Regions from separate parts of the Homo sapiens genome. Here region 2 is linked to region 1. The links come from fine-mapping of genetic effects on gene expression. A gene starts in region 1. The other region holds a variant in brackets. All regions are shown on one strand. Distances are between the middles of the regions.

Region 1 (4,000 bases):
AGTCCCAATAAATCTATCAGGAGGGAGGAAGCATGTCTCCCTTCAAAGACAGTGTGTCTCTCCCTCCAGTTCCTTTGCAATTTACCTACCTGGGAATGCTCAGAAAGATATATCATGAACACAGCATTAAAAGATGCAGAATAGTACTACTCTCAGCATTTTAATGTGTGAACCACAAAAATCAGGACATTCTCATTACATTACTTTTTGTTTATAGGCTTTATTTCCAAGTTAAAATTGATGCTTAGAACTATGTTTCCAACCTAGCTTATGATAGAAAACCAAGAAATTATGAGATCACACAAATCTTCAAAGAAAATCAGGGTAGATCTAGATGTCATCAAGAAAGAAACTGTTAAATATCCATTGAGAAACACACAAGCCCCCAAGAAAATTACAGTCTATGCCACACCAAAAGAAAATACCTGTATTTTTAGTTTTTAAGTGAATAATAGCGCAAAAATCACATTACAACTGTGCTAATAAGGAATGGAGAGATCAGTGTCCAGCAAAAATAATTAAAAAGTCAGTTCAATAAGCTGAGAGGGTAGCATCCTAAATGAAGTTGTTGTTGTTGTTGTTTTAACAGTTTTAACGTTTGTGCAACAAATAATTGAACAGGGTTTGTTTGTTTTTTTTCTTTTTAGAGGATCCAAAGGTATAGGTAAGAATGACAAACTCTTAATCAAACAAGGAAGGGGCAATTTCACAGAATATTGCCACTGTTCTCTGAAAACAGGAAGAGCACAGACGTGTAGAGAAGTAAAACCAAATCAAACCGCATGCACAGGGCTTCACTGATCATGACTGGAGTGCATGTTACATTCTCTCTAAAAGCCCCTCCGGTCTTCATTTCTGACATCAGGTTCTAAAGTCAGAACACTACGGTTCCATTTTGCCCTTAGACACACCGGTATGAAGTTCCACTGGGGGAACAGTGCCAAGCATTCAACACCCTGACTGATAAGCAATATATTCAGAAGTCAATCCAAGTCTTCAAGCTGATCCCCTTCCTGGTGGCCCAGACCATGGCAACTCTTCTGTGCATTTGTTGCCTCCTTTACCCTTTGGGACTGGGGGAGGAATGAGATGGGTGAGAGGGCAGTGAGGGCATGGAGATTGGAAAGAAAAAAAAAATGTGTACTTTAAAATTCTGAAATAAAAGGTAGTGTCTAAAAACTCAACAACCTTCTTGGAAGATTTCATGCATTTCTTAAAATTTCCCCTGTCACTGCACCCCCAGCAAACATGCTGGTGGTGAAGGTCCGGGAATTCACACAAAGGGATGCAGTTACCATATGCCCTGGAGAGGTGAACTTTCACCCACTTAAACAGAAAAGAAAAGCCCGGAGTTCCTCTCAGAGTCATGGGCTAACCTCCATCCATTGTTAGACGGTGGAGCCCCAGAGGGGAGTAAGGCCACGGCGCCCCCCAGCCCGGCATTTCCACCAGCTCTACAGTGAATGAGCAGTCGGCCAGCCTTCCGGTGGCGCCTCCACGGTTCCTCCTCCTCGTTTCCTAACACCGGCGCCTCCACAGCAGGTCTCGCCACCCGAAAGCTAACATGCCCCTTCGCAGAGCCCAAAAATAGCACCGCCCTGGGACGTTCAGCTGGAGAACCAGCAAGGCCCCTACACGGCCAGGCAGGGCTAAGCTGGCGGAGCGTGCCTCAGTTTCCCTGTTGCTAGGGCCGTTCACAAAGCACCCAAAATGCCTAGCACCCCGCTTTACGACAAATCTCTCCGCAGGGCGCCACCCCGTTCCGCGCGCCCCGGGAGACCCCCACCCTGGAGGTAAAGGGATGGAGGCCAAAGCCAGGTCGGAGGACTCGGGGGCGGTGCCCGGGGCTGGGGTTCGGGTTCCCAGAGAGAGCCAGAGCCCAGCCTGTATGGGGGTCGGGAGGGTGAGCCCCAGGAGCAAAGGGATCCCCGGGAAGGAGGACAGGCTTGGAGTCCCGGGGCCGGGAATCCATCTGAGGTCCGCAGATCGCGAGGGGAGACCCGGGTGAGGCAGGAGCTCCCATCCTTGGAGGAAGGGGATCGCCCAGGGACAGCAGGGTGGGGAATCCCCAGGGAACTGATCCCTGGCCAAGGTGCGGGATCCACCCAGGATGAATCCAGGTGAGGAGCCGGGAGCCGTGCGCTTAACGGCGGGATTTGGGAACCCGCTTCTGACACGGGCAGCGGGACCGGGACGCCATCCCTCTCACCGCTGGAATCGATTCTTGAACCGCATTGATCCTCTGCTCCTCCTCGGGGGCCAGGAGCTCCGTCTCGTCAGCACCGGCGGCCGGGCGCGCGGCCCTCATGGGCTTGGGCTGCTCCGGAGGCCGCCTGCGTGTCCAGCGGAACCCTTCGGCCGGGTAGGGTCGGAGTGGGCCAGGCCGGGGGTCGGGACAGGGCTGGGGCCAGACCGGGCGGCTGGGGGCGGGAGGGAGGCCGCTTCAACGGCCCCAACACCTCCCGCCTCCCGCCTCCCGCCTCCCCGGCTCCTCCGCCCCGGGGCTCCTGCGCCCCGCCCCGGAGCCCGGCTCCGCCCCCGCCGGCTCTGTTCGCCTGCGTGCACCCGCGGTCGCCGGCGCGTCAGCGCGCCGGTCAGCCAATCGGCACCCCGAGCGGCGCGGCGGCTACGCTGCCATTCATTCCCGCCGGGCTCGGGCAGCGAGGCGGGGCCTCGCTGGGGAGGGGCGGGGCGAGGGGAAGGGGAGGAGCGCGGGAACGCGGCGCCCTTCTGTAAGAGACAAGTTGGAGAAGAGATCGAGGGAGGGAGAGAAGTGGTGAAGGAGGAGATGGACCAGGAAATCTTAAAAGCATTGTGAAGAAAATAGCAGCAAACAAGCAGCCCTACCTCATTCATTTTTTCTTCATCATTAATTTCTCCATCCCTCCTTTCATTTATTCCTTCATCATTTTGAGGGCCAGCTCCCGCGAGGCTATTGTGAGAGGATCCAGGGCAGAATGAAAAACCTGTCCTTGTCTGACCCTTGAGGGAGTTGAGATCTCTGAGCGTCTTCTAACTCTGAGATTCAGTGAGATCCACAAAAGGAGGAATCCTCTGCAAGGATCCTTTTATGTTATCCTCCAGTTTATTTTTTATTTTATTTTATTTTTATCCAGGCAGCTTTCAAATAAACGAGTTGACTTGAATCAGGGTCCTGTCGCTAAACCTAAACTCAGAGGGCTTCCTGGAAGAGAAGTTCAAATAAAAATGAATGAATGGGCCAGGTGCTGTGGTTCATGCCTGTAATCCCAGCACTTTGGGAAGCCAAGGTGGGCGGATCACCTGAGGTCAGGAGTTCGAGACCAGCCTGGCCAACTTGGTGAAACCTTGTCTCTACTAAAAATACAAAAATTAGCCGGGAGTGGTGGCGGGCTCCTGTAATCCCAGCTACTCGGGGGGCTGAGATGGGAGAATCACTTGAACTTGGGAGATAGAGGTTGCAGTGAGCCGAGATTGCACCACTGCATTCCAGCCTGGGTGACAGAGTGAGACTCTGTCTCTCTCTCTCTCTCTCACACACACACACATACACACAGAATGAATGAATGGGTGATTTGTCGAGCCTTTCCAGGATCACTGATGGAAGTTATATGTGTTCCCTTCCAGGTATCGTGTCCATACCCAGCCCCCAGCCTGCAGGCTAGAGACTCTGAAGTGGCATGAGGCCAGCCTGCTAGGAGTGCTCATTCGACCTACAGTAAAGCATTGGAAAGCCAGGGAATTCTGTCACCCATAATTCTAGTTCCCTTTCCTTGAACCTTCCAGAGAGGTGCTTTCCATGCTTCAATCTTCCCAAGAGCTCCTCCAGATGGGCATTATCCAACTTATTTTACAGATAAGGCTGAGGCTTATAGTGGTCAATAAACTTGCCAAAGGCAAAAGTAAGGCTCCTACCTACCTTTCGCTAACTTTAAAGACCCACCTCCTTTCAGTACGTCAGACTATCTCTCCCTGTTTTAAAGCAATACACTTCTCTAAAACAAAACAAACAAAACAAAAC
Region 2 (4,528 bases), 28 kb before region 1:
TCAATGGCACAAGGGAGATGGGTGGCACCTGATGAAGGCTTGGAATAAGCAACTATTTGCCAGGTAGGAAAGGGGCTGGAGTAAGGGCATTCCAGGCCAAGGAACAGCAGGTACAAAAACACAGCTGCAAAAGCACCATGAGGGCATGTGTGTTGTGGGGGAGGCTGTGAAAATCACTAGCAGGGCTGATGTCAAGTGGGGTTCAGCTGGGGAGAGGGCCGATCAGGCGGAGTCAGCATGTGAAGAGTCCATGCTAAAGCATCTGGCGTGAATCTTATAGGATAATAGTCAGTGGAAGTTTTGGAGCATCGAGACACATGCTCAGATTTTATTTTGGGAAGATAATGCTGGTACAGTGTGGAGGATGAGCTCATTTGAGGGGTGTAAGCAGTGGCAGGGATACAAATGAGGAGGTGGCTGCTGTAGTCTGATGAGTGCTAAGTAGGTCTTTTTAGGACCCTGCAGTGTGAAGAGAGGTGAGGAACCAGACCAGGGAGTTGTGAGAAAGGCAGGGGTGACAGTTCTGGCTGACCTGTTGCATCTGGGGGGTGCAAGAAATCAAGGATGCATGAATGAACAGATGGCTGTGGCCATGCCATTAACTAAGTTAGGAAATTTCAGAAAATAGGTTTGGTGGTAGGATGAGGAAAGATAATGAAATCAGTTTGGGACGGTTTGAGTCAATATGTCTGGGAGCATTTAGGCAGTTGACTAGAGAGAGGTCTAGTCCTTAGAAAATAGTTTAAGGCTGAAGATACTGACCAAGAAGCTGACAGCACAATAGTGGGGACACTCTAGAAATGGATGAGGTCACACTGGTGACCTAAAGGACAGAACTCTTGGGAATCATAACGCTTCAAGACACTCAATCTTCAAAATTAGATTTGACAGAGAGTTATCTGAGGGATTATTGAGGTTCTAAACCATGTGAATAGTGTTTTCTTTTCTGTGTCCATGCCTGATGAATTTTTAGTTCAAGTTTTTTTATTTGTTTCTGCTGACTCTAGAAATGCAGTGGTATAGTCAATGGGAGGCTTCGGAATCAGATAGAGCTGGTTGCTGTTCCAGCTCCCTGATTTAGGATGAAGCAGTTGAACTTCTCTGGCCCTGGTTTCCCACACTACAGAAGAGGTAGAATGGCATCTAACACTAGGAGAGTTGTTAAGATTTATAATCTGCTACTTGTCTGGTTGGTAACATAAAAGACTGTCACCTCAGTCCTATAGAATATTAAATATGCTAAACCAAAAGGCTTACCTTGGTAAGGATGCATCATCTAAAAAACTTGAAATCATTAGGTCCTGACTAGTGTATTTTAAACTGAAAATGTCTGTTGATTAATGTTTGAGCTGACTCTGGCATTTCAATTATTAAAAAGTAGACTAGAAAGTTCTAAGTGACAGGGTGTATTCATTTTTCTTCACAGTCATCTAATTTAGAGACAGTGGAACAAATCCAAGTAACAACTTTATTGTAGTATACAGCACAATTTTTACATACATATTAGTGGTTTTGACAGTGTTACTTTTGAGTAGACCTTAAATGAATCCACAAAGTTAATATATTAAAAATAAAATATACACAGTAAAACAACAGGCATCCAGATGTTCAGAATCATGCAGATAGGAGTGGTTTGGTTGGTGTTATCACTGGGTACCTTGCCTATTTAACTCGCCAGCAAATACCACTTCTTCTGTTTCTCATTCCCATATAATTCATCAAAATCAGAGAGTTCTAAACATATACAAAATAAACCTCTTTTAAAGCCACATCAGTAAAAAATTTCAATTAATAAGGTTATCATCAAACCAAGAATTCCACTGATCATTTGATCAGCCCATTACTAGGAAACAGGCAATATCAGCACCCGATCTAAAGGCAAGCCTATTTCATTTATTAAAACACCAACAAGAGAGATTAATCAACAAAGCAACTATTAACAACATGTTAATCTTAATATAAGACACTGAGAGAAAAGTAAAAATAATACATAAATATCACTCCACTGAGCCAGGATATAACTCATGGACTACAGATACATGAGTTTCTACCTGTCAAACAATGCTTTAAATATTTTTTCTAGGAAAAAAAAAAAAAAACACAATATATGAGAAGATGCAAAGGAAAGGCAGAAATGTGAATTTATGCATCTAGTTCCACAATTTAAAATAAATATCAAACTGACAATATAAAGCTAAGTGACAATGACTTAACCATTGGGCACCAAACAGGCAATACAACTGCTCACTGTAATACATAATGCTCTTCAGGAGTTTCCAGCAGATGGCCATCACAACAATACTGTCATAATACAGAAAAAACATTTATCCACTGTGGAAAGAGACCCTGAAGAGAATGTGGCAAAGGCATAGAGAAAAAGTTGGATCTTTTGAAAAAGTTAATGATATCAAAATACTTTTCCATCACTGGTAAACCAAGCTAGGTCAAGTATATGTCCCAAAGCAGCACTGAATTCAGAGTAAGAGGTTGGCAGAAAAGTTTGGAAAACTGCAGTTTTTAAAAATTGGCAATTTCTCCATGCTTAATAAAACTATCAGAAGAGGTATAATGTTTGTTCGTTTGTGGAATGTTGACTGCTTGCTGCAAAAATTTACAACATGAATGAGGACCTGCAGAGATGCATATCAATGAAATATTTTTT[T/A]AAAAATTTACAAAAAACTAAAGTTTCTATTTAAAAAAGAACCATGTTATGCCAAGATGAAACATGGTAAAAAGTAGTGTAAGTTCTGTCCATGATTCTTTACCTAGTGAATGGGAAAGTAATAGAAACAATTTTCTTCTTAAAAAGGAAGGTTTGTTATTGCACTGACTTTTACAACCTGACATAGTAATTTAGAAAAATCATGTAGTAAAATCTGTAAAATTAAAATATAAAAGTCTGGTTTGTAAACATCAGTTGGCCAAGTCTATTCAGAGTCCTTCATGATAGTGGAATGGAATGAATAATTAATTCACTACCTTATTTATTTGCTGTGAGGCAGAAAATTCCAGAACACAGCCTTTATACTTTCACAGTAATTATATTCAAAAGATATAAAGTCAGTGCAGTTATTTTTTTTCTTTCCCTGTGCAATGTTTAGCTCTCACCCCACTCCCAAGTGCCATAATTGAAATAATACTGGTTTGGAGAATTAGTACAGATTGGTCATAAATGCCGCATAAAGTCCGTAGGACTTCGGTAAAGGTATTTCCAAATGGCGTAGTAATGCACTGCAGCTGCCGTGGCCACAAACAGGTGCCAGATGGCGTGGGCAAATGGAATGATGCCATCACTCTTGAAGAACACAACTCCCAAGCAATAAATTAAGCCCCCACAGGCAAGTTCCTGAAGTCCATCGGTGTTGTTCTGTCAACAGAGAAAAAAAAATAAAAAGGGTTTGATGTTACTCTGCATGGCAAGCTACAGATAACTGTAATTCTCTCTAAGGCTCTTGATTTTCTAGACAATGAAGAAGCTGTGTGAACACAATCCTGATCTGTAAACATGAACCAAACATAAAAAAAGTCTCTTATACATCGACCTGGATTGCCCTTTGGACTGACACTCTTGAGTTGAGCAAGCAATCACATTACAGGTCCCAAATGAAAAAGCAGAACATTCTGCTCATTTACAGCATATTTAAGCAAACTGCAATCATAGCCAGACATGGGAGTTCATTTTAATAAAGTGCAATCCTCTGTTCTCATCTTCCCCTTTAAATGCTTCCTTCCCTACTAAGGCAGGCCCAAGCCACTCTATTTATAATTTACATCTCAGGCAGGGTATTTACTTCCCTTTGTCCTTCTCAAACACTGTTCTACACTGATTGCTGCTTTGAGACTTCCCCTGCTTATGTGAGCTTATAGATTCCTTAAGGCTGACACAGGAAAACCGTAACTAGAAGTGACCTCTGAAATCACAGATCACATAGTACAAGATATTTCCTAGCCTTCTAGATGTCTCCAGGCCTTTTTGTATTCGAGCCTGGCCATTGCTTAGCTTAGCAATAAGTTAATATTCTTGTGTGTCTTAGGGCAGAAGGGAGAATTTTTTAGGCTGTTCTTGGTTTTCAAAGACCAAGGCCCATCTACAAGATTAAAATGGCTTGTATGAATGAGGAGAGAGAATAGAGGCAATGCTTAGAAGCTGATGAAGAAACAAGTTAGTCCCCTGGATTTCTGAGGACTAGGAATAGAAAGGAGACAGGTTCTGCAGAGTGAATGGAAACCTAAGGCAGATCACGGCAGGGCCTTGGAAGGGGATAGGTGTGTGGGTGTCCTAGAGGCCTGGGCACTGGGCAGCAGCCTTGTGTGCCCCGCAAGAGTAAAGGGAAGCTCTAACTCAGGCACCTGATTAGAATGGGCCCCAAGGCCCTCGGCTAAAAGCAAGGCAACAATAGACCATCATGAGCTAAGGACCAGGTGTGAGGATCTAGGGCCAGCTGTGAGCTTCAGTCCTTTTTCAAAGTTCACAGAAGCCCCCATGTTTTGTGTGGGATCAAAAGATGGGGAAGGAGCCAATCCAAAT

Which allele goes with the higher level. Positions count from the first base shown, and alleles are read on the strand shown. Sizes are in standard deviations (SD) of each study's normalised expression.
In carriers of allele A in region 2, the expression in cerebral cortex of the gene that starts at base 2,375 in region 1 tends to be lower than with T alone (small effect, 0.26 SD a copy in GTEx).

What was found. PIP is the estimated chance that this variant, and not a neighbour inherited with it, causes the effect. A credible set is the group of variants that fine-mapping cannot tell apart.
Region 2: its variant is the best candidate, but not a certain one, in a credible set for the expression of MMD in cerebral cortex (GTEx, PIP 0.63).

Annotation. Positions count from the first base shown.
Region 1 is chr17:55,419,461-55,423,460 of GRCh38, forward strand. MMD (monocyte to macrophage differentiation associated) reads right to left here and starts at 2,375. Exons shown (of 7, transcript NM_012329.3): 1 at 2,210-2,375. The coding sequence starts at 2,235. RefSeq lists a silencer at 2,316-2,775.
Region 2 is chr17:55,391,168-55,395,695 of GRCh38, forward strand. MMD (monocyte to macrophage differentiation associated) reads right to left here. Exons shown (of 7, transcript NM_012329.3): 7 at 1,455-3,367. The coding sequence ends at 3,167. Among named protein-coding and RNA genes, the nearest start is that of MMD, 28 kb to the right of the region's middle. The variant T/A (reference allele first, on the strand shown) is at 2,663.